Linked DNA regions of Homo sapiens: regions 1 and 3 are each linked to region 2. Evidence: fine-mapped expression QTL. A gene starts in region 2. Each other region holds a variant in brackets. All regions are shown on one strand. Distances are from middle to middle.

Region 1 (7,740 bases), 44 kb after region 2:
TAGGTGGTCTGCATGGAGTTTAGCTGCGATGAGGTGGTCTCGCTCATCCAGAAGCTCTGCGAGAACACTGGGGCCATGAACCTGCAGCATGACAAGGCCTCTGTCACCTGGATAGCCTTCTTCCTCCAGATGCGGGCCAAGGAGCTGGAGGACAAGGTGGCAGAGCCGCGGCAGGGCCACCAGAGAGAGGGGCTGGGGCTGCCTGGTGTGCCCAGATGAGAGGGAAGGACGAGGGCCTCACCAGCACTCGCTGAGAATGCCTCCCCCAACCCCTGGCTGCTAAAGAGGAGGAGGAAACAGAGTTCTAGAGCTAGAAAGAAGCGTGTTGAAGGTAGCCTCGTTAGTTAAGTGCACGCTGACCTGGAGATCAAGGTTCTCCTCCCCAGAGCACACCACCTCCTGCACTGAAAGCCTGGGAAAATGAGTTTGAGGCAGAGACCAGAGGATGCACTAGAGAGGGTGCTGGGCGCTTAACCTCCCCATTGTCCAACTGGGCCAGAGCCCTTAGAGCAGGGGCATGTCATGGGGTTAGTGCAGGAGGCCATAGGGGCCTGGGCTGCCCCCCGGTGATGCCCCATCCCTACCTAGGTGGCCGAGATCCTGAGTGCCATCCTGGTGCACCTGCCGGTGGTGGACCACCCAGAGGTGCGGCGCCTTCTCATTGACGGCATCCTGCTGCTGGCGCACCACCACCAGGAGACCATCCTCACATCGCTCCTGAGGCAGCCACTGCCCATGGAGAGGTGGGTGCCCTGGAGGAGGTGGCCCCGGCCTCCTGTGCCATTTGACCATGCCCAACTCACCACCCCGATGTGTCCCAGAAGCCTGGAGCCTTGGGCAGTACCCTGCCCCACCCTGAAGGAGGTCGAAGCCCTCTTCCTGTACCTCCTGCAGGAGGTGCCAGCCTCCGACGAGCCACTGACAGAGCCCAGGCTTGTAGAACTTCGCCACATGGAGCTGGAATCTGGACCCGTAGCTCCCCACATGCCCGGGACAGTGTCTGTGGAGTTCATTCTCTCCCAGAGTAGCCCTTTCCTTCCCTGTGAACAGAGCTCCAGCAGATGGGCTGCAGGGTGCGGCTCCAAGGCATGAGCAAGCCCTGGATATATTCCAGGCTGTCCCTATTTCTTTCAAAATGTGTCCTAAGAGGGGAAGCGACTTGTCCCAGTCTCCAAGGGGAGAATGGCCCAACCTCCAGCCCCAGAGGTGGCCATGAGTGATGCAGAGCCACCCCATCTTTATTGGTGTTTCTCTGCAGACAGTGCAGAGCTCCTGTGTGTGCTACAGCATGATGGCACAGGCAGCTGGGCATGGTCTCCCCACATGTGGGGAGTCTGTTTGGGGTGGTACCAGAATTCATCTGGGAGGAGCCAGAAAGAGCTAGACAGTCATCCCCAGAGCAGTGGAGCCTGTGCTGGTGCAGGGACGTGAGGAGATGTCAGGCTAAGTAAGAGGCTTGGAACAGAGAAAAGAGTTTTAAAAATAGGCCCCGGCTCCAGAGCCACAAGGGCTGACCTGCCCGAAATGCAGGCATGACTCCCCTGTGGAGCTGCTTCTCATAAGGGCAGCCCTGCCGTGGGTCCAGCTGGGAGGGTGGTGCAGGTGTCATGATTTAATGAGGCTCAGTGGCTCATGAGGCAGTGCTGGGTGGGGGTAAGGGGGATGTGCGGTGCAGCCCTGGGTCAGGCTGGCGTACTTGGTGGCCACGTCACACTGGCTTTCACTTAGTTTGCCAAAATCTGTATTGGTTTGCTATTGCTGAATAACAAATTATCACCCACTTAGAAGCTTCTAACAACATCCATGGATTAGCTCACAATTTCCATGGTTCAGGAGTCAAGGCATGGGTTAGCTGGGCTTTCTGTTCAGGGTCTCACAAGCCTGTGATGAGGGTGTCAGCTGGGCTGCATTCCAGAGCCTGGGGTTGTCTTCCAGGATTGTGTCATTGTTCGTAGTTGCTTCTTGCCATTGTAGGACTGAGGTGCCCCTTCTTGTTTCCTTGCGCCCCATGGCTTCTTTACAGAGGGTGCTGATGAGTGCACTCTGCCCCCTCTCCATTTACTCCTGCCCCCAGGCCCCCAGGCACATCTCCCTTCAGACCCAAACTCACCACCCTGCTCTTGTGCATTGGTTTTGTGGGTTCCAATAGTCAGTTTACACATCTCTTTGTTCAACTTGACCTTGTTAAATTACATTTAGACTTGTTAGACTCACATTAGCCTTTTAGAACCTCCCAGATGCCCCGCTCTCTGTGCCTCTGTACCTATCCTGGGGGACATCCCTTCTCAGCAGGGCCATGGGCTTGGACTTGGAAACCAGGAAGGCCCTTTTCCAACTGTAGTTTGGCAGGTGGCCTGACTGCTGCAAGCCTCACTTCCCTCTTCTGTGGAATAGGGAGACAAAATACCTTCCTCAAAGATGTGTTGGGAGGGTTAGGTGATATAATATCAGAAAGCTACCGACAACCAACCTGATGCAAATTGGGCACTAGGAGGTATTGTGGGACATGTCCGTACAGTCATCAAACAGGTGGGGGTCTCTGTGGTCATCTAGCAGTGGAGGTGGGGCTTCCGTGGGGGCCATGGCTTTCCCAAAGGTACCGTGAGCCCGTGCAGAGAAAGGGGGTTGAGTATAGTGTCAGGGGCCTGGGTTCTAAGCACGCAAATTTTGGCGGCTCCCTCCGCCTCCCTGAGATTCAGTCCCCAGAGTCCAACCCCTACTTAGGGGGCTGCCAAGGGTTTGAAAGGGATTCTTACCTGCCAGGGCACATGCCAGGAAACTCACAGTCCTTGTGCCCTGACTTTGGTTAGCCACCTGGCAGAGGTGTGGCTGGCAGTGTCGGAGAACGTGCCCTTCGCCCGGACCATGCTCCACAGCCTGATGGGCCGGCTGCAGTCACGGCTCAGCCCCAGAATCAGTGCCACCTCCAAGGCTGACATCTGGCGCCTGGCTGCGGTGGACCCCCTGATGGTGAGTTGCAGGCGCAGGCCCCAAGGCTCCTCAGGGGTCTCTGGGTAGGAGCCCGATGCCCTGGACCTTCTCTCTGCAGACCCTGTGCACCATCCACCTTCTCATTCAGAAGCTGGATGAGAATGACAAGCTCCCGGACTTCCTCCCTGACCTCATCTACACCCTCCTGCTGCAGCTTGGAAGCAGCCACCGACCAGAGGCCGCCCCGCCGGTCTTGAAGATGTGGAAGCTGGTCCACACCACTCCTCTGCCGGAGGAGATGAACCTGCAAAGGTGCTCTCGAGGGCGGTGGGTGCAAGGCAGCAGGCCTGGGCTGGCTGTAGCCACGGGCTGCCCCTTAGTTGCCAGTGGACTCCAGTGAGGGGCCCTCTGTCTCCTCCTGGTGGGATCTGATCTTACTCAAAATGCCGTTCTCATGTGTGTCAAGCACGGTGTGGTTTTCAGAGCTTGCAGATCCACTCCCTCCCTGGACCTTTCCCTCAGTCCCTTGGGCTGGGCCCGGCAGGCACTGGGGCCCCACTTCACAGATTGCAGCAGCCTCCCCAGGCCATGCGCTCCCAGCAGGGCAGCGCATCACAAGCTCCCACCTCCCTTCAGGGTCACTATCAAGTCCATGCAGCTCTTGTTCAAGAGAGTCAAGAGCCAGCACCTGGCACATACCCTGGACGAGCAGGCAGTGTGGGACCTCCTGCAGGACGGCGGGACATTCCTGGAGGGTGTGAGCCTGCTGGCCAGGTGGGCCCTGGCTCCCACAGGGTGGCAGGGGGACCTGCAGAGGCACCTCCTTGCTGGATGGAAGGGCTCCTTGTGAGGACATGGTCCAGTCATGGCTGAAGGCCTTCTTTCTGGGGGAACTGCCACGCCAACCTGTGACTCTAGGATGGCAGTGGTGTGCAAGAGAATGAGAACCTTTTATTCGAACCCTTCCTGCTCAGAGCAGATATGAGGGCAGAAAGAGGAGGGGCTCGCCCCCAGGGCCACACAGGGTCTAGAGTAGGCCAGGGATGGGAGTTACTTCTGGGGTCCTAGTCACTCCGGAGCCGCCCTCACTCTAGTCCCCTTTGTAAAAAGGAGATAGACATTGACTGATTCACTGACAACCTCAACCAAGTCCCCAGGAAGAGGAGGGAGAAACCCAGAGATGTTACGACATCTTTCCGGGGTTATCTTGCCACCAGGGTCCAGGCACCGATGTGGCCCTGCCCAGCTCTTGGCAAACGTCAGGCAGGGGTGGGGCCGCCTCCACGACCTGGCACTGTCTCTCCTCTGCAGGCTGTGCATGCAGCACGTGGAGGGCCACAGGCAGAGGCTGGCCGAGCTGGTGCTCAGGGGCATGGACTCAGAAGTCCTGAGCTGCCGCATCAGCAGCACAGCGGTCTGCGTGGAA[A/G]TGAGGCACCGGGTGTGGGCGGGGTGCAAGCGGAGGGGATGGGGTCCCTGGATTCTTCTGGGGATGGCTTGTCTCCAAGGCATGGGAGTCGGGGGGACAGGCGAGCGCCCCTCCTCTGAGTGCTCATTCTCTCATCTGCTCCTTCATTCATTCATCACATGAGTAGTGCAGGGCAGGCCCTGCTGGAAAGACAGGCTGAGCCCTGCAGCATTGCAGTTAACTGATGTGTGACCCAGGCAAGTACAGTGACCCAGGGGACCCAGGGAGGGCACCTGGGTTCTCGCTGGGGCAGGCTTCCTGCAGGAGGACTCAGAGAGGCCGAGGGGCTTTGCTAGGTGGGAAGGCAGGGCCCAGCGACCCTATCTCAGAGTGAGTGTTGGAGCGTCCTGAGGGCAATGATGCCCAATGCACCCTAGGAACCAACCACAGCCCAGGCCAGAGGCCGGCCAGTGTTTTCTGTAAAGGACTGCAGAGTAAATTTTTGGCTTTGTGGCCAACTAAGCTGTAGCAGGAAAACAGCCACAGCCAATAAGTCAACCAGTGGGCATGACGGTGTCAACAAAACCTTATTGATGGACACTGGAATTTAAACTTCATGGAATTTTCATGTGCCATAGAATTTTCTTTTCTATATTTCTTTTCCCCAACACTTAAAAATGGGAAAATGAGTTTTGGCAGTGGGCTGTACAAAAGCTCCTGGAAGTACAAGACCAGTCTGGGAGGTACTCACCAAGCTTTTATAGGTTCTTCAGGCCCCTCCCTGTGTTCAGGCCTCTGTAAATCTTCAAAATGAGGATGGGAAGGAGAAGTGCTCCCTCGTTGTCTCACCCAGGACCTGTCCTTTGATGTGCCTGAGTTTGGAATTTTCAGCGGCTGGAAGCCACACAGGGCCAGGCGCAGGTGCTGGAATCCGAGGGCCTGGTTAAGAGCCTCCGCTCAGTTGCTGATTGGCTGGAGATGAAGTTACTTAGCGTCTCTGAGCTTCAAGCTCTCCATCTGCCCAACTGGGGAAAGCAGTGCCTTCTTTTCAGGGCTTTGGTGAGAGCTAAATGAGATAGACCGTGTATGCATTGCTTGCTTGGGAGGTAAGTGCTCATTAAATGCTAGCTAATTATGGCAGTTTAAAAATTAGGTTCAGCTTTTTTGGTTCCATATGAATTTTAAAATAATTTTTTTCTAATTCTGTGAAGAATGTCAATGGTAGTTTAATGGGAATAGCATTGAATCTATACATTACTTTGGGCAGTATGGTCATTTGCATGATACTGATTCTTCCTATCCATGAGCATGGAATATTTTTCCATTTGTTTGTGTACTCTCTGGTTTCTTTGAGCAGAGGTTTGTAGTTCTCCTTTGAAGAGGCCCCTCACTTCCCTTGTTAACTATATTCCTAGGTATTTTATTCTCTTTGTAGCAATTGTGAATGGGAGTTCATGATTTGGCTCTCTGCTTGCCTGTTGTTAGTGTGTAGGAATGCTTGTGACTTCTGCAGATTGATTTTGTATCCTGAGACTTTGTTGAAGTTGTTTATCAGCTTAAGAAGTTTTTGGGCTGAGACAATGGGGTTTTCTAGATATAGGATCATGTCATCTGCAAACAAAGACATTTTTACTTCCTCCCTTCCTATTTGAATACGCTTTATTTCTTTCTCTTGCCTGATTGCCCTGGCCGGAACTTCCAATACTATGTTGAGTAGGAGTGGTGAGAGAGGGCATCCTTGTCTTGTGCCGATTTTCAAAGGGAATGCTTCCGGCTTTTGCCCATTCAGTATGATATTGGTTGTGGGTTTGTCATAAATGGCTCTTATTATTTTGAGGTACTTCAATACCTAGTTTGTTGGGAGTTTTTAACATGAAGGGATGTTGAATTTTATTGAAGGCCTTTTCTGCACCTATTGAGATAATCATGTGGTTTTGTCTTTAGGTCTGTTTATGTGATGAATTACGTTTATTGATTTACATATGTTGAACTAGCCTTGCATCCTGGGAATGAAGGCTACTTGATCGTGGTGGATGAGCTTTTTGATATGCTGCTGGATTCAGTTTGCCAGTATTTTATTGAGAATTTTTGCATCGATGTTCATCAGGGATATTGGCCTGAAGTTTTCTTTTTTTTGTTGTATCTCTGCCTGGTTTTGGTATCAGGATGATGCTGACCTCATAGAATGAGTTAGGGAGGTGTCCTTCCTTTTCAATGGTTTGGAATAGTTTCAGAAGAAATGGTATAAACACCTCTTTGTGTTTCTTTTTCCTTTTTTTTTTTTTTTTTTTTTTGAGACAGGGTCTTGCTCTGTCGCCAGGCTGGAGTGCAATGGCGTGATCTCAGCTCACTGCAACCTCCACCTCCCGGGTTCAAGCAATTCTCCTGCCTCAGCCTTTCGAGTAGCTGGGACTGTAGGCATGTGCCACCACACCCAGCTAATTTTTGTATTTTTAGTAGAGATAGGGTTTCACCATGTTGGCCAGGATGGTCTCGATCTCTTGACCTTGTGATTTGCCCGCCTCGGCCTCCCAAAGTGCTGGGATTACAGGCGTGAGCCACCACGCCCGACCACCTCTTTGTATTTCTTGTAGAATTCAGCCTGTATAGCCAAGACAATTCTAAGCAAAAAGAACAAAGCTGGAGGCATCACCCTACTGGACTTCAAACTATACTATAAGGCTACAGTAACCAAAACAGCATGGTACTGGTACAAAAACAGATACACAGACCAATGGAACAGAATAGAGAACTCAGAAATAAGATGGCACATCTACAGGCAACTGATCTTGGACAAACCTGACAAAAACAAGCAATGGGGAAAGGATTCCATATTTAAAAAATAGTGCTGGGAGAACTGGCTATCCATTTGCAGAAAATTGAAACTGGACCCCTTTCTCACACATTATGCAAAAATTAACTCAAGATGGATTAAAGACTTAAATGTAAAACCCAAAACTATAAAAACCCTAGAAGAAAATCTAGGCAATACCATTCAGGACATGGGCATGGACAAACATTTCATGATAAAATCACCAACAGCAATTGCAACAAAAGCAAAAATTGACAATTGGGATCTAATTAAACTAAGGAGCTTCTGCACAGCAAAAGAGACTATCATCAGAGTGAACAGGCAACCTACAGAGTTGAAGAAAATCTTTGCAATTTATCCATTCAAAAAAGGTCTAATATCCAGAATCTACAAGGAACTCAAACAAATTTACAAGAAAAAAACAAACAATCCTATTAGAAAGTGGGCAAAGGACATGAACAGACCCTTCTCAAAGAAGACACTCATGCAGCGAATAAACATATGAAAAAAAGCTAAATATCACTGATCATTAGGTAAATGCAAATCAAAACCACAAGGAGATACCATATCATGCCAGTCAGAATGGCCATTA
Region 2 (7,740 bases):
ACTGTATTTTCTCTACTTTTTTTTTTTTGCCTTGTTTTACTTTTTTTGTTTTGTATTACAAGCAGAAGTTTTAAATTTGTAAGCTTCAAATTGGAGCTGGGGTGGTGCAGAGCGAAGATTTCAGCTGGTTCCCTGACCCCAGCTCCATCTCCTTCCCTAGGCAGTGGCTGGAACACATTCTGTCCACTATTTCCCTCTCTACATCCTTGAGGCTGTGCAGTCACCCCTCAACTACGTTCACCCTCCTTCAAAGCCCTTCCTGGTCCACCCGGGGACCATCTCCCGGCCTCACTGCCCCTAGCTCCTTGACGCCCCAACCTCTCTCAGGGACCCCAAGTTGCCATGACCTCCAGCCAGCTCATGTTCATTTGCACCTTCGTGTCTGCAGCACTGAGGCACTCTTGTTTACAAGTGAGAGAACCCAACTCGGGATACCTTAAGCATAAACAGTATTTTTGTAAGGAGACAGGCTTCTGACGACGCGAGGCTCATAGCCAGGCCTGCGCTGGGTGGAGCCTCCCCTTCTCACTCCTGTCCCTGTTGGGTCAGAGTGCCAGCTTTCCTCTTCCCTCTCCTCCGGGTCTTTTCGGCCCCTCAGTCCCCATATTCCTCTGCCCTAGCTCCCAAGATCCCACAAGAGACAGACTGGATTCTCTCTGGCCTGGAGTGCCACCTTCCTGAAAGTCAGAATCTGATTGGTCCAGCTGGATCAGGTGTCCTCTCCCTGTCCAATCATCAATGCCGAGAGGGATTACGGAGAGAAAAACATGGCTCCCACCATCCCATTGCTGTGGCTGCTTGGGCCACGGGAGAGGGAACCTTGTGAGCCGGGCAGAATCCACCCTGTAGAGACTGCCTCTGGGTGAGTCATATGGTTTGGCTGTGTCCCCACCCAAATCTCATCTTGAATTGTAATTCCCATTACCCCCATGTGTCATTAGAGGGACCTGGTGGGAAGTGATTTGAATTATGGGGGCAGTTATCTCCATGCTATTTGTGTGATAGTGAGTTCTCACAAGATCTGATGGTTTTATAGGGGGCTTTTCCCCCTCTTGCTCATACTTCCTCTTGCCTGCCACCATGTAAGATGTGCCCTTGCTCCTCCTTCACCTTCTGCCATGATTGTGAGGCCTCCCCAGCCATGTGGAACTGTGAGTCCATGAAACCTCTTTTTCTTTATAAATTACCCAGTCCTGGGTATTTCTTCATAGCAGTATGAAAATGGACTAATACAGTCAGCTTCTGCACAATATTTCCATTTTCCCACATTATGTCTTGGGCCTTTTGTGTATTTAAGCTCACAGGATGCTACGAATAAAGCGTTTTCTTATTTCCTGGGTAGTTCCCATAGAAGTAGTGGTGCAACGTGCCATAGAGTGACAGCACCTAAGAGAAGCTGATTTTGTGAGTGGATTGTGAGTTCAATATTGTTGTCATAATCAGAAAAAAATGTATTTACTTTTTTTTTTTTTTTTTTTGAGACGGAGTCTCACTCTGTTGCCCAGGCTGGAGTGCAGTGGTGTGATCTTGGCTCACTGCAACCTCCGCCTCCTGGGTTCAAGTGATTCTTCCTACCTCACCCTCCTGAGTAGCTGGGATTACAGGCACATGCCACCCCACCACACCCGGCTAATTTTTGTATTTTTTAGTAGAGACAGCGTTTCCCCATGAAAAAAAGTATTTTCAATTTGGAAAGCCAAGCAGAGCCCCCTTCTTCCTCCTTGGTCTCACTGTCTTCATGTCCTCTGTAGATAACATGCTCAGGGGCCTCTTACTTTTGGCCATGGCTTACACACTCGACCTGTGTGTAATTTAAAAATGACCCCTTTCTCCACTCCTCCTGATTGCCATATCCTTCACAATGTGACTTTGCAACTCTTCTCATGAAAAGGAGGAATCTATTTCTCCAGCCTGTGGGTCCTGGCTGGCCTGTGACCTGCCCTGGCTGACAGAGTGTGGCAGGTGATGAGCACTGGTTTCAAGTCTAGGCCTCAAGAAGCCTTCATATTCCCGCTCACTGTCTCAGAACCCTGTCCAGCTGCTATGAGAACAGCCTGGGTGAGCCCTGCTGCACAATGTCCCCATCACCCTAGTCATTTCAGCCAATAGCGAGCCAATGGCCAGCCCTCTAGCTGTCTGAGATACATGGGTGAGACTCTAGTTGTGCTTGGCTGGACAGAGCACAGATCCACAGACCCACGCAGGTGACTCATACACTTGTGAACTATAATAATCGGTTGTTTTCAGTCATTAAGTTTTGAGGTGGTTTGTTACACAGCAATTGCTGACACATTCACTTCTGGCTCTAAATGTATCACTTTTCATGTGTTGAGTCTGAAGACCTTCAGAGGACAGAGATGTGTTCCACCTACCCTATATCCACTGCAGCATGGAAAGCCATGCTTAGCTGCACACAGTAGGCGTGCAGTCTGGGCCTGTGGAATGGACTTGGCAACCACATCACCTCAGTGATCTTTCAAACGGAAAAGAAGGCTCAGTGGGGAGTGGGAGGAGGTAGTGCAGAGGGGCAGTCCTGTGAAAGAAGGGGCATGGGATAGCTGCTTGTGTCTATTTCATGTTGATCAATGTATCTCCAAGTGCAGAACAAGGAATAACGCAGGAATTTTATGAGGAAGAAATGTTGGGCATGATAAGAAAGCTCATTTTCTAACCATCTGAATTCCATGAAGTAGAAAGAGGCTGGTCCTGAGAGTAATGAGCTCCCTCGTATTGGAGGTGTCCAAGCACAGGCTGAGGAACTCCCATTTGGCTGGATGGGCAAACTTGGAGTGGAAATTCCACTTAAGCAACCTTGGCCCTAGATGTCTCTGAGTTTTGTTCCTGTTGTCTTGCAGTGCATAGAAAGATTTCCCAAAGGCCAATATTTCATTGTTGTACCTATGATCTGGATCATCTCTCCTAGCTATAAATGACAGGGAAATCCTTTGGGCTCCACTTTTGGTTTAGGAAATCAGGGTGCCTCCTCTCCTACCTGTCTTTGATGTTCTTTATCTTGTAAGTATTGTGCTAGTGGAAATCCAATTTCTTATCCTGCAAGTCATCCAGTCCCCGGGAAGGAGGAGTGCTCTCCCCAGGGCCTCTCAGTCTGCCCCTCCTCTCCTCTCCAACTGTCCTGACCACACCTCCCCACCCAGGGCTCACATGACTGTGTTCCCCTGGGACTTGGTTGTAAGCCATCCCCACTTCTACCATCTCCCTTTCCCAAACAGGCCCCTGTACTTCAGCACACACATGTGAATAACAGAAATGTTGAATGACAACATGATGTGGAGTTTTCACCCCAGAGCCCTGTGCACTCTTCAAAGACCTGGGTTGATAGAGACTCAGGGAGGCAGTTGGATCTCAAAGTTCCGAGGGTCTGGGATCTAACGGTGATAGTTCTAGTGAAACCCTCCCACCCTTCCAGGAGACCCATTCCTATAAGAAATATGACTGAAGAGCCCAGCTGTCTCACTTTGATAACCAATTCTTCCATTTGCATTTCCATTGATGTGTATTGGGCCAAGAGCAGAGCTTTTTCTTGTGGTTAATATCTGTTTAATCCAGAAGAAGACCCTAAGGAAAGGTCAGTATTTAGGTCCCAGAGTAGCTCTTTAAAATCCTTTAAAGGAAAAGAGAGTATGGGATAGTAAAGGGCCATGGGATGGATCTTTGAGGATCAAGGAACTTGGGACAGGAGGAGAAAGGATCTGAGAGCCTTTCTTCCACCATCTCGACATCTATGTTGGTGTTTCTCAATTTTTAAGAAGCTGTGGATGTTGAGAGAACCCCTTAAAGGAGTTATGAGAGATACTGATATGAATTTCTCATTAGCCATTAATTATCAGTGTGTAGAAGAGAGGGCGAGAGGGCTCTATTAAACTAAGGATATTATCTATTGCTGTGTAACAAATTATCATAAACTCAGTGGCTTAAAAGAACATCCATTGATTATCTCACGGTTCCACTGGCCAGGAGTCTAGGCATGGCTTTCCTTGGTCCTTTGTTTAGGGTCTCAGAGACTGCAGTCCTTTCTGGAGTTCAGCTTCCTCTTCCAAGCTCATGTGCTTATTGGAGAATTCAGTTTCTTATGGTTGTAGGACTGAGGCCCTCAGTTCCTTGCTACGTGGCCCTCACCACAGGCAGTTTGCATCATGGCTGTTTACTTTTCAAGGCCAGTAGAATGTTTCTGTTCAATCTGATAAGAGGGAATCTCATGTGGCATAGTGTGATCATGGGAATGACATCCCACCATCTTTGCCATATGATGTAATCCACTCGAGAGAGGGTCACCCATCACCTTTGCCATATTCTGTTGATTAGAAGGAAGTCACAGGTTCCACCCACACACCCTCAAGGGGATGGCTTTATGGAAGGGTGTGGGTCGTTGGGGTCATCTTAAGGTGTGTGTCACACCCCGTATTTTACAAATTCTGTTGATCTCAAAAGAGCTTGAGGAAGAGATGACTGAAGCCATTACAGAAGCAGCAGTAGCCTCAAGTGAGGAGGTGTCAGAGGAAAGAGACGACCTGGGGCCTCTTGAATTACATGACAGTGGTAAGAATGTCATCCACATTTCTGCTTTCCTGCCCCATCTCAGACACTAACTCTTTGACTGCAGCCCCAGCCTAGGTCTCCCTTTCTCCATCTGCACAGTGGACATCATACCACACATGAAGCTGGAGCTGCGCAGGTGGAGGCAAGGCCAGGGACACAAGGGCACCTCCTGTCATGGTCATTTCCACACTGCACCTGGGTGGCGTTTGTTTTCATAGGTACCTTTCAACAAGTCGTGAACCTTCTGGACATCATTGACAGCGAGTCAGCAAAGACGGACACAACAGGGGCAGGCCTTGACATGCGGAAGACCCTGGCCTCGGTGATAATCATGGAGAAGGCCACCACTGAGCCTTCTGTAGTGATAAACACTCTCATCCGCTGCCTGCAGGTGCCAGAGGTAGGGCCATCTTACCCACTGGGCTCAGCCACCTTTAGCTCTGTGTGCATCCATCCACCACCCAGCACATAGTTACTGACTATCAGAGATGTGATGTGTGGTACTGGGATACAGAGATGGGCAAGACTGTGAGGTGCTTACTCCCTGAGGACCAATTGGGACCTGAGATGTTCATAATTTTTAAAAGTTCCCTTGTCTTCTGACACAGTGGGTTTGGGAGCCATTGTCCTACAGCACATGAGCTGAGTTGCAAAGATGTTGAGCCAGTGGGCATGGGAGAGTAAAGATACACCAGACACAGTGTGCAGGGATGTTTGGCTAGTGGGGAGATGCCTAGCTGGGTTAAGGGGCTGGGGTAGAGGATGTTGGAGGGAGTGATACAAAGTGCAACCAGGGGACCTGGTGGGCTTGTACAGACAAGGTTTGCATCACGTGGTACCAGACAAGGTTTTGGACTAGACAAGGGTTTGGAACAGAGCTGATCCAAACCTTGCTGGGCACCACCCCCAGAGTTTCTGATTCAGTAAGTCTGGGGTGGAGCCTGAGAATCAGCATTTCTAACAAGTTCCCAGGTGATGCCAAGGCTGATCTGGAGAGCCTACTTTGAGAACTGTTGGATTTTAGACTACCCTTTTGTCTTGGAGTGGGTAGCAAAGGGGTGCTATGAGCAGAGGAGCTTATTTATAAAAAGTTTTATTATTTTTGTTGGATTTGGATTTGCATTTGCGTTTTCCCCCTTTTATTTTTAGTTGACACATAACAATTGTACATATTTATAGAATACAAAGTGATATTTCAAAACATATATACAATGTGTAATGACCGAATCAGGGTAATTAGTATATCCAACACTGCAAACATTTATCATTTCTTTGTGTTGCAAGCATTCAAAACTGTTTCTTCTAGTTTTTTGAAAATATACAATCAATCATTGTTGACTATATTCACAACCTACAGTGCTATAGAACACAAGAGCTTATTCCTTCTCTCCAGCTGTAATTTTGTATCTTTTAATCAACTTCTCCCTATCCTCCCCTGCCCTTACCTTTCCCATACCCTAATACCGAAATTCTACTCTTGACTTCTATGAGCTCACCATTTTTATAGCTCCCATATATGAGTGAGAACATGTGGTATTTATCTATCTGTGCCTGACTCATTTCACTTGACATAATGTCCTCCAGTTTTATTCATGTTACGGTAAATGACAGGGTTTCTTTTTTTTATGGTTGAATAATATTCCGTTGTCTGTGTATACCACATTTTCTTTATCCCTTCATACATTGATGGGTACTTACGTTGATTCCATATCTTGGCTATTGTGAATAGTACTGCAATAAACATGAAAATGCAGCTATCTCTTAGATATATTGACTTCCTTTCTTTTGGATACACACCCAGTAGTAGAATTGCTGGATCATACGGTAAATCTAGTTTTACTTTTTTTGAGAAACCTCCATAGAGTTTTCCATAATGGCTGTACTAATTTATAGTCTTACCAACAATGTGTGAGGTTTCCCCTTTCTCCACATCCTTGCTAGCATCTGTTATTTTCTATATTTTGGATAAAAGTCTTTTTAACTGGAGTGAGATAATATCTCATTGTGGTTTTGATTTGCATTTCTCTGATGATTAGTGAGGTTGAGCATTTTTTTATATCCCTGTTGGCCACTTGTATGCCTTCTTTTGAGAAATGTCTGTTCAGATCTTTTGCCCATTTTTAAATTTGATTTTTTTGCTATTGAGTTGTTTGAGCTCCTTGTGTATTCTGGTTATTAATCCCTTGTAGGATGGAGAGATATTCTCCTATTCTGTGGGTTGTCTCTTCGCTTTGTTCACTGTTTCCTTTGCTGTGCATAAGTTTTTTGCTTGACATAATCCCATTTGTCTATTTTTGCTTTTGTTGCCTGTGCTTTTGAGGTCTCACACAAAAAATCTTTGCACAAACCAATTTCCTGGAGCATTTCCCCAATGATTATTTTCTAGTAGTTTCATAGTTTCAGGTCTTGGATTTAAGTCTTTAATCCATTTTGATTTGATTTTTGCATATGGTGAGAGATAGGGGTTTAGTTTCATTCTTCTGCATATGGTTATCCAGTTTTCCCAGCACCATTTATTGAAGAGACTGTCCTTTCACCATTATATGTGCCTAGCACCTTTGTCAAAAATGAGTTGACTGTAAATGCATGGATTGACATCTGGGCTCTCTATTCTGTTCCATTGGTCTATGTGCATGTTTTTATGCCAGTACCATGCTATTTTGGTTACTATGGCTTTAAAGTATATTTTGAAATCAGGTAGTATGATGCCTCCAGCTTTACTCTTTTTGCTCAGGATTGGTTTGTCTGTTTGGAGTCTTATGGTTCCATGTAAAAATTGTCTGTAAAGAATGTCATTGGTATTTTGATAGAGATTTCAATGAATCTCTAAATTGCTTCTGGTAGTATTTTGATAATATTAATTTTTCTATCAGTGAGCATGAAATAGCTTTCCATTTTTTGGTGTCTTCTTCAATTCTTTTCATCAGTGTTTTATAGTTTCCCTTGCATAGATCTTTCACTTCTTTGGTTAAATTTATTCCTAGGTATTTTATATTTTTGTGGCTATTGTAAATGAAATGGATTTCTTGGTTTCTTTTTCAAAATGGGTGAAGTGTTCTGTTGTTTGCCATTTGGCATATACTAATGTTACTGATTTTTGTATGTTAATTTTGTAATCTGCAACTTAACTAAATTTATTTATCAGTTCTAACAGTTTTTGGATGGAGTCTTTGTATTTTTCTA
Region 3 (7,740 bases), 59 kb before region 2:
CTGCAGTGTGCCATGTTCACGCCACCTCACTCCAGCCTGAGTGACAGAGCGAGGACCCATCTCAAAAAAATAAAAATTTATTTGGAATGTGAAAATCTTGTTTTAAAGTTAGAAAACATTTTTTTAAAACTCCAATATGAAAAGCTGGGTGCAGTAGCTTGTGCCTGTGGCCCCAGCTACTTGGGAGGCTCAGGTGGGAGGATCATTGAGCTCAGGAGTTTCAGCTCTTGTGGTTTGTTGACTGACTGACTGATTGACTGATTGATTGATTTAAAACACAACAAAACCCAAAATGACTTTAATCTGATAGTTTCTTTTGATGTCAGCATTCTGATTCTGTCCATTCTTAGTTGTATTCTTTCCACTGAGTGTAAGCTCATTCCTTTAACAGAAATTTAGTTTTTCCATCTTAGTTTTGGAATTCCATGGCCCTTTTCCATTTCCATGGAGATGCAGTGCAGCATCTTCAAGTCTCTAATTCTTACATCTGTCTCTTTCACTTGCAAGAGCCCTTGTGATTACATTGTCCTGCCCGGACATCCAGCATAATCTCCCCATGTCAAAACCCTTAATATAATCACATCTATAAAGTCTCTTCCACCTGTAATGGAATATATTCCCAGGTTTGCGCAACTACAATGTAGATACTTTGTGGGGCTGTGATTCTGCCTACCACAGACACTAAGCTTAAAGTGAAACCCACATCTTATTCAAAACTTGGAGGTTTTCCTTCATTTGGCCATTTAAATTTAATTTTTGTTTCTGTCCTCCGTAGTCTTCTATTCTCCAGGCTTCAGAGCTCTCAGCTTACCATTCAATTATCTCCTTTCTCTCCTTATATTCCTTTTTTCATTTTTTAAAAACAATACTTTCAAAGAGCAAAAATTTTAGAATTTGATGAGGTTTATTCTAGTGAAGTTTTTATCGTTTGTACTTTTTGTACCCTAAGGAAGCTTTGTTTACCCCAAGATATAGTTTCTACATTCTCTTAAAAACACTAAAGAGTTCCAGTTTATATGTTTAGCTCTGTGAGATTGGGAGAGGGGAGCTAGATCACTCAGGTCAGGCTTTCGGGATGCCTTTTTCTGTCTCTGGACGTTGCTGGGGTGACCTCACTGACACCCATGGCTTCAGCTACCACATATGCTGATGGCTCCAAGTCTATCTGTGCAGCCCAGACCCCTCCTCATCTCCAGACCCTGGAAGCTGATGCCTTGGGCAGCTCCTCCTATTTCCCAGGCACCAGGAATGTGAGCTTCTCCCTCCCCACAGTCCTGCTGTCCTCAGGGCCCCTATGTCTCTGAAGGCACCACCATCTTCCAAGATACATGGGCCTCCGCAGGGTCTAGGAGTGCCAGACACGTAACCAGAAATCAGATGACATCACTATCTAAATAAAACACCACTACATGGAAATAGAACACCACTACATGGAAATAGAACATGGGAGCCCCTTGAATGTGGCAAGAGCACCCTCCCAGGCATGTTCCACCCTCACCCCGGGCTCATCAGGAGGGTTCTTAAGATGCAGACAGTTTTAAGGGGGTTGGAGGAATAGTTGAGAAGCTGAGATGTTGCACCCACAGCTGAGAATCCCTTTCTAGCACTCTGTGTCCTCACAAATCCCCAGAAATCGTCCTCCCCTGGGGAGTTCTCAAGCCCTTACAGACCTGCCCTCTCTGTGCCATCCTGCATATGCCTCCCTTGAGCTGGGTGTCCCTCTGATGGACGCATCCATTCACTGCCTGTCCCATGGGTTGTGTCCAAAGGTGGAATCTGTTATCAATGTGGATTTCTAATGGGAGTAACTTCCTCCATAAGGGAAGCCTCAGCCTCACCAGCAATGGCAGACATGGCCAGGCATGTAGACACAGAGGTAGTGAGATGGAAAGTGGGCACAGCCCAGAGAGCCTGCCCACCTCATCCTGGGGCGACCAGGACAAGGAAGCATCAGCAATCTTGCGAGCACATGTAGGAGTGACTTTCTGGAGCAGGACGAGCCTCATGGGCATGAGACCATTGTGAGTGCTCAGGGTCTCCCCCTAGAAAGGCACACATTTAATTCTCCATTTTGAAATTTGAAGTAGTGCCCCCACAAATTATGCAGCCCGTTCTGTTCTGGAGGAACCATTCTTATCAGAACTTGGTGCTGGATTGACTTGGAGAAAAGCCTGGCCATAATCTTCAGGATGAAATAAAGGCCTGGATGAATGGATACTTCAGTCTCTATGCAGACTTGCAGAAGACTGGAGCCTTTGGCATTCAGAAGAGGAATTCAGACTGTGCAAGATCTGAGGCCAGGCTCCAGCTCCCCAGGTCCTTTGGTGAGCAGGAGCTCCCTGAACCCACCGTGGGTCCTTGCTAGGGTTGTCTTGCCCATGTGTGCTTTAGACAGCAGCACCTCTTATTCCATGGTGTAGATGGAGAATCCTCAATAAAGCCTTCCCAAGAATATGATCATCACATCTTGAGCTCAGCCTCCCCGGAGCTTTTTTTTATATTGACAGCCACTTCAGAGAGAGTCCTCTTTGAGCTTTACAAGAAATATCCTGGTGTGAAAAAAGACCAAAACCAGATAGCCAGCCTGAACACTCTCTGTTTAGAGAAAGCTGGCTTAGCAATGTTGTATGTCTTTTGGATGTGCTGTGTTATTCACATATGAGAAGAAAGAGTTTCAAGGGTTAGCAAATAGCGTCACATTCAGCAGAGAACATGTGGTTGGGGACTAGGGCAATGGTGACTCCTCAGACCTCAGCTGCAGCCTGATAAATATGGTTAACAGAGTAGAAGGCAGTGACATGAAATGGGTGTCCACAGCCTTGTGTTGGGAATTGAATGAGAAAGAAGAGCTTGAACTTGGATGTTCCCCAGAGGCAGCACAGGGTCAGATGAGCTTTTCAAGATAGGCGTGATTGGTCTTTCCCAGGGTTGGGCCCATAACGAAAGGCAGTTATAGATTAATGGGTAATAAGTAACTGGAGGAGGGCACTTTGTCTTCCAATTACATGCTGATTTGCTAGGTGGCTCAATGACAAGGTAATTAAGGCGAAGGAAACAAATGTAGCAGGCACAGCGTGGGGTGGACAGTCAGCTGTCGGTGGCTTCTGCTGAGATGGCCAGAGGACTCCAGGTTCCCCTGCCGCGGCTGGCCACAGGACTGCTGCTCCTCCTCAGTGTCCAG[C/A]CCTGGGCTGAGAGTGGAAAGGTGTTGGTGGTGCCCACTGATGGCAGCCCCTGGCTCAGCATGCGGGAGGCCTTGCGGGAGCTCCATGCCAGAGGCCACCAGGCGGTGGTCCTCACCCCAGAGGTGAATATGCACATCAAAGAAGAGAAATTTTTCACCCTGACAGCCTATGCTGTTCCATGGACCCAGAAGGAATTTGATCGCGTTACGCTGGGCTACACTCAAGGGTTCTTTGAAACAGAACATCTTCTGAAGAGATATTCTAGAAGTATGGCAATTATGAACAATGTATCTTTGGCCCTTCATAGGTGTTGTGTGGAGCTACTGCATAATGAGGCCCTGATCAGGCACCTGAATGCTACTTCCTTTGATGTGGTTTTAACAGACCCCGTTAACCTCTGTGGGGCGGTGCTGGCTAAGTACCTGTCGATTCCTGCTGTGTTTTTTTGGAGGTACATTCCATGTGACTTAGACTTTAAGGGCACACAGTGTCCAAATCCTTCCTCCTATATTCCTAAGTTACTAACGACCAATTCAGACCACATGACATTCCTGCAAAGGGTCAAGAACATGCTCTACCCTCTGGCCCTGTCCTACATTTGCCATACTTTTTCTGCCCCTTATGCAAGTCTTGCCTCTGAGCTTTTTCAGAGAGAGGTGTCAGTGGTGGATCTTGTCAGCTATGCATCCGTGTGGCTGTTCCGAGGGGACTTTGTGATGGACTACCCCAGGCCGATCATGCCCAACATGGTCTTCATTGGGGGCATCAACTGTGCCAACGGGAAGCCACTATCTCAGGTCTGTATTGGTGCCTTCATCCAATCAATGTTCCAGGCAAAACACTTTTTAAAAAATGTATTTACTTACAAGTGCTTCCATATCTACTTATCTTTCCAAAGATTTTATTTTGGCTTCTTTATAACAGATAAACTGTTGAGGGGCCTAGTGTATTTCAAGTTTTCAGTGGTCACTGAGAGGAAGAAGAGGCACGGATGAGGGTCTGTCAGAGGATGGACAAGGACTGCTGTGACTCACGGACAGTGTTTGTAAAGGCACCATCTTCATGGTTGTGCATGTCCTTCAGCTCGGCAGGATCAGGGACACTACATTCAGAACTGATCCATCCTGGGGTTTTTGCTTGCCTGATTTTCAGCTGAACGGTGATGCAACAGTAAATTAGAATTGTGGACATGATAATTTTTAGTGGTCCCATCTTGCGAAAGATACAGAGGTGACCACAGGAGACCTAGGCACTCACAGGAAGTAGAAGTGTCAAAGAGGTTGACTCAGTTGAGTGGAAGTGGGGCTGTGAAGGTGGGATGGATGCATGTGATCAGAGAATGAAACATGGAGTTCAGTTTCCAGAGAGGGATCTGTCCTGAGAAAAGTTTTTCTGACCAGGAGTTGGGGGTCTGGTGTATGATGTGGGGACATCGTAGAGTTTGGAAGGTATGGTGATGGTTGCATGTCAAAAGGGTCTTCTACTTGGAATGCTGAAATTATCAAGAGTGGGTGGAAGGGACTAGGGAGGAGATAAGACCGTGAATCTATAAGCCCAGTGAAGCTGGGACCAGTGATGAATGGACATGTGTCCAAGAAGGGAAGTGTTTCTCAGGTGAAGCTGATCATATCACCAAACTCACCCTATCCCACTCCAAGTTTCTATAGTGGGATCTATTCTTTTTCCAAAAATTTCAGAGGTGACTTTCATTAATACAGAATATTTGGGTTTCATTGAAATAGTACTCTGGGATGTGAAAAACCAAATTCACACACCAATGAATTTGGTTTCTAAATCCATTAAGGGAGCCATCCTTTTTTTTTTTTTTTTCTTGAGACTGAGCCTCGTTCTGTCGCCCAGGCTGGAGGGCAGTGGCCGGATCTCCGCTCACTGCAACCTTCACCTCCCGGGTTTAAGAAATTCTCCCACCTCAGTCTCCTGAGTAACTGGGACTGCAGGCATGTGCCACTGCTCCTGGCAATTTTTTTTTTTTTTTTTTTAGTAGAGATGAGGTTTCGCAATGTTAGCCAGGCTGGTCTTGAACTCCTGACCTCATGTGATCTGCCCGCCTCGGCCTCCCAAAGTGCTGGGATTACAGGCAAGAGCCACCAAGCCCAGTGAGGGAGCCATCTTTCTTGTGAGAGAATTGAGCCCTTTTTTGTCATATTCACTGAATTTATATGAACTTCCATGAGTTTAGGTCCTTTGTATTCTTATTTCTGTACTTCTTTTTATTAGTGTAGGTATTATTGCAAAGGACACTAAACTTTATTTTTGTTTTTGATCAAACCACAAGATATTTGTTCTACTGGTTTTCTTTTCCCCTTATGCAATGTAGTTACTGAATTGTAAAAAATATATATGTTCTTTAGCTTTGTAAAAATGTGGAAAATTAGGAAGGCATTTGAATAGTGATTGTGGCTCTTTTCTTGTGGTTTTTCACTATGAATATATTCTTTAGACTGAACTGCACTGGCTCAAATCTTCACTCTCATTTTTCTAGCTATGTGACCTAGGACAGGTACCCTAAGCATTGTGGTTTTAATGTTGTTATAGTGAGCACCCAATAAATATTATCTGTTATCATTCTTATTATTTTAGTTTAATTGCATTTATTTTATGCTGAATTTCTTCCAGAGCCATAGGTAAATTTTTTCTTCAGTTTCTTCTGGGATATCTTTTTCTTCTGTGCAACCTCATCCTCAGGTTTAGGAACAATTTGTTCCTTATCAGTAAAGATCATCTTGAATGTGGCAGTGGGGGGTCATGTAAGGGTTAATCCAATAATGAGCTCTGCAAGACGCATGGCTCATCTTGGATGCTTTGTTTACTTGGATAAGCTTAATGATGAGAGAATCTACATCTAAATTGTTATATTTAGCATTATTCTCTGCATTTTAAAGCACATGCAGCAAAAATCCAGCACCCTATTTGGGCCACCGACCTTGTGTCCAGCCCCACTGCTCGGCCCTGGGCACACTTGCCAGCCCCTCCATTGCAATATCGAAATGGTGCACACTGCTTCCATAAAGTGACATCCTTCAGACACTTGGTGGCTCTTTGTATATGCATACATTGATGGCCTGGGTAGTTTCACGAATGTCCTTTAAGTGAACAGGAAAACTGAAACCTCTTGAATTGCATGATTTTGTGGTGTTTCTGGGTCAAGTGAATAAAGAAGAATTTTCACAGATCACCTTAGGCCTCTTAGAGGAAGAGCTATCATCATCATTAGTAGAGTTTAAGACTCCTGCAGGACAAGATGTGTCACCTGGAGACCTTTGCCATGTTCGTGCCAATTTACTGAGTGCATGAAAGATCATTTACACCAAAATCTTTATCATGTATTATCTGTGACAGACACGCCATTATCATTTTTATTACATTGATTTCCTTTGTTATTTTGTCACCCTTACTTACTTGGTTTGGTTGACCCTTAGATTTGAAATTTTTCTACAAATATACAAGACTAAAGTTGAAATCTTACGTTTCTTCTCCCTCTCTTTCTCCTTGATTTAAAGTTTATGGATAGGTTGAATTATTTGATTGGTCTTCTCAAAGAAATAACTGTGGAATTTGTATATTCTTTTCACTGTTTCATTTTCCGTTTCGTTAATTGCAGCTTATTTTTGCCTTAATGATTTCATCCTAGTTTCTTTTGGTTGATTTGTAGCTGCTTTTGCAACTTCGTTAGAGGACTATTACACTTCTTTACATTTGATTTTTCTTAATGAAGCATTGAGGGCTCGAGTAAAAGATTTCTTTTACTTAGGTTTTGGTAAAAATTGCTGTTCTTTTCATTGCTTTTAGATAATTTAAATATCAGTTTTTAAATTTCTCCTTTGATGCAGTGACTGTCTATAAGGCTGTTACCTAATTCTGATATTGTTAATAATTTTGTAGTCATCTCCCTCTTATTTTTTCAAGTTATTTTGTATTATAATAAGAATGTTTCTTTTTTTTTTTTTTGAAGGAAAAAATAAATTTATTGCTCATTAAGTGGAAGTGGATCATCATAAAGGTCTTCATCCTCATTGTCTCCATGCTGAGTGGGCTGAGGAGGAGGAGGAAGGGGAGGGATTGGTCCTGCTGTCTCAGCGTGGCAGAGGCAGAAGAGGATGAGAAGGTGGAAGGGCCAGCGGGAGAGGCAGGCACACTCGGTGTAACTTTATGGAAATATATCATCATTTTTGTTTGACTTTTTTCCTTTCTCATTTCTCTGAAAATGTTTCTGTACAGTACCAATTCTTCTTCCACCATTTGCTTTAGTTTCAGTGCCCAAACCATAGAAGGGTCCATGTGGTAAAAAAAGTCAAAACTGACTTTTTTTTTTTTTTTTGAGTTGGAGTCCTGCTGTCACCCAGGCTGGAGTGCAATGGCACGATGTTGGCTCACTGCAACCTCTGCCTCCCAGGTTCAAGCAATTCTCCTGTCTCAGCCTCACAAGTAGCTAGGACTACAGGCACACGTCACCACACCTGGCTAATTTTTGTACTTTTAGTAGAGATGGGGTTTCACCATACTGGTCAGGCTGGTCTCGAACTCCTGACCTCAGGTG

Direction of the effects. Alleles are on the strand shown, and positions count from the first base shown. SD is a standard deviation of normalised expression in the study named. Not every link is listed here.
As copies of G replace A in region 1, the expression in testis of the gene that starts at base 3,435 in region 2 goes up (moderate effect, 0.43 SD a copy in GTEx).

The links. PIP is the estimated chance that this variant, and not a neighbour inherited with it, causes the effect. A credible set is the group of variants that fine-mapping cannot tell apart.
Region 1: its variant is the best candidate, but not a certain one, in a credible set for the expression of MROH2A in testis (GTEx, PIP 0.70).
Region 3: its variant is the best candidate, but not a certain one, in a credible set for the expression of MROH2A in lung (TOPMed, PIP 0.52).

What each region holds. Positions count from the first base shown.
Region 1 is chr2:233,819,314-233,827,053 of GRCh38, forward strand. It overlaps MROH2A (maestro heat like repeat family member 2A), which reads left to right. Exons shown (of 42, transcript NM_001394639.1): 30 at 4-156; 31 at 589-743; 32 at 2,811-2,970; 33 at 3,050-3,243; 34 at 3,568-3,705; 35 at 4,243-4,351. Among named protein-coding and RNA genes, the nearest start is that of HJURP, 31 kb to the right of the region's middle. RefSeq lists an enhancer at 3,518-4,018. The variant A/G (reference allele first, on the strand shown) is at 4,358.
Region 2 is chr2:233,774,896-233,782,635 of GRCh38, forward strand. MROH2A (maestro heat like repeat family member 2A) reads left to right here and starts at 3,435. Exons shown (of 42, transcript NM_001394639.1): 1 at 3,435-3,586; 2 at 4,450-4,557; 3 at 4,776-4,957. The coding sequence starts at 4,464.
Region 3 is chr2:233,715,709-233,723,448 of GRCh38, forward strand. All of the region lies in intron 1 of UGT1A8 (UDP glucuronosyltransferase family 1 member A8), which reads left to right. All of the region lies in intron 1 of UGT1A10 (UDP glucuronosyltransferase family 1 member A10), which reads left to right. All of the region lies in intron 1 of UGT1A9 (UDP glucuronosyltransferase family 1 member A9), which reads left to right. The region is part of intron 1 of UGT1A7 (UDP glucuronosyltransferase family 1 member A7); the gene reads left to right. It also overlaps UGT1A6, UGT1A5, UGT1A4, UGT1A and the pseudogene RPL17P11. The variant C/A (reference allele first, on the strand shown) is at 3,182.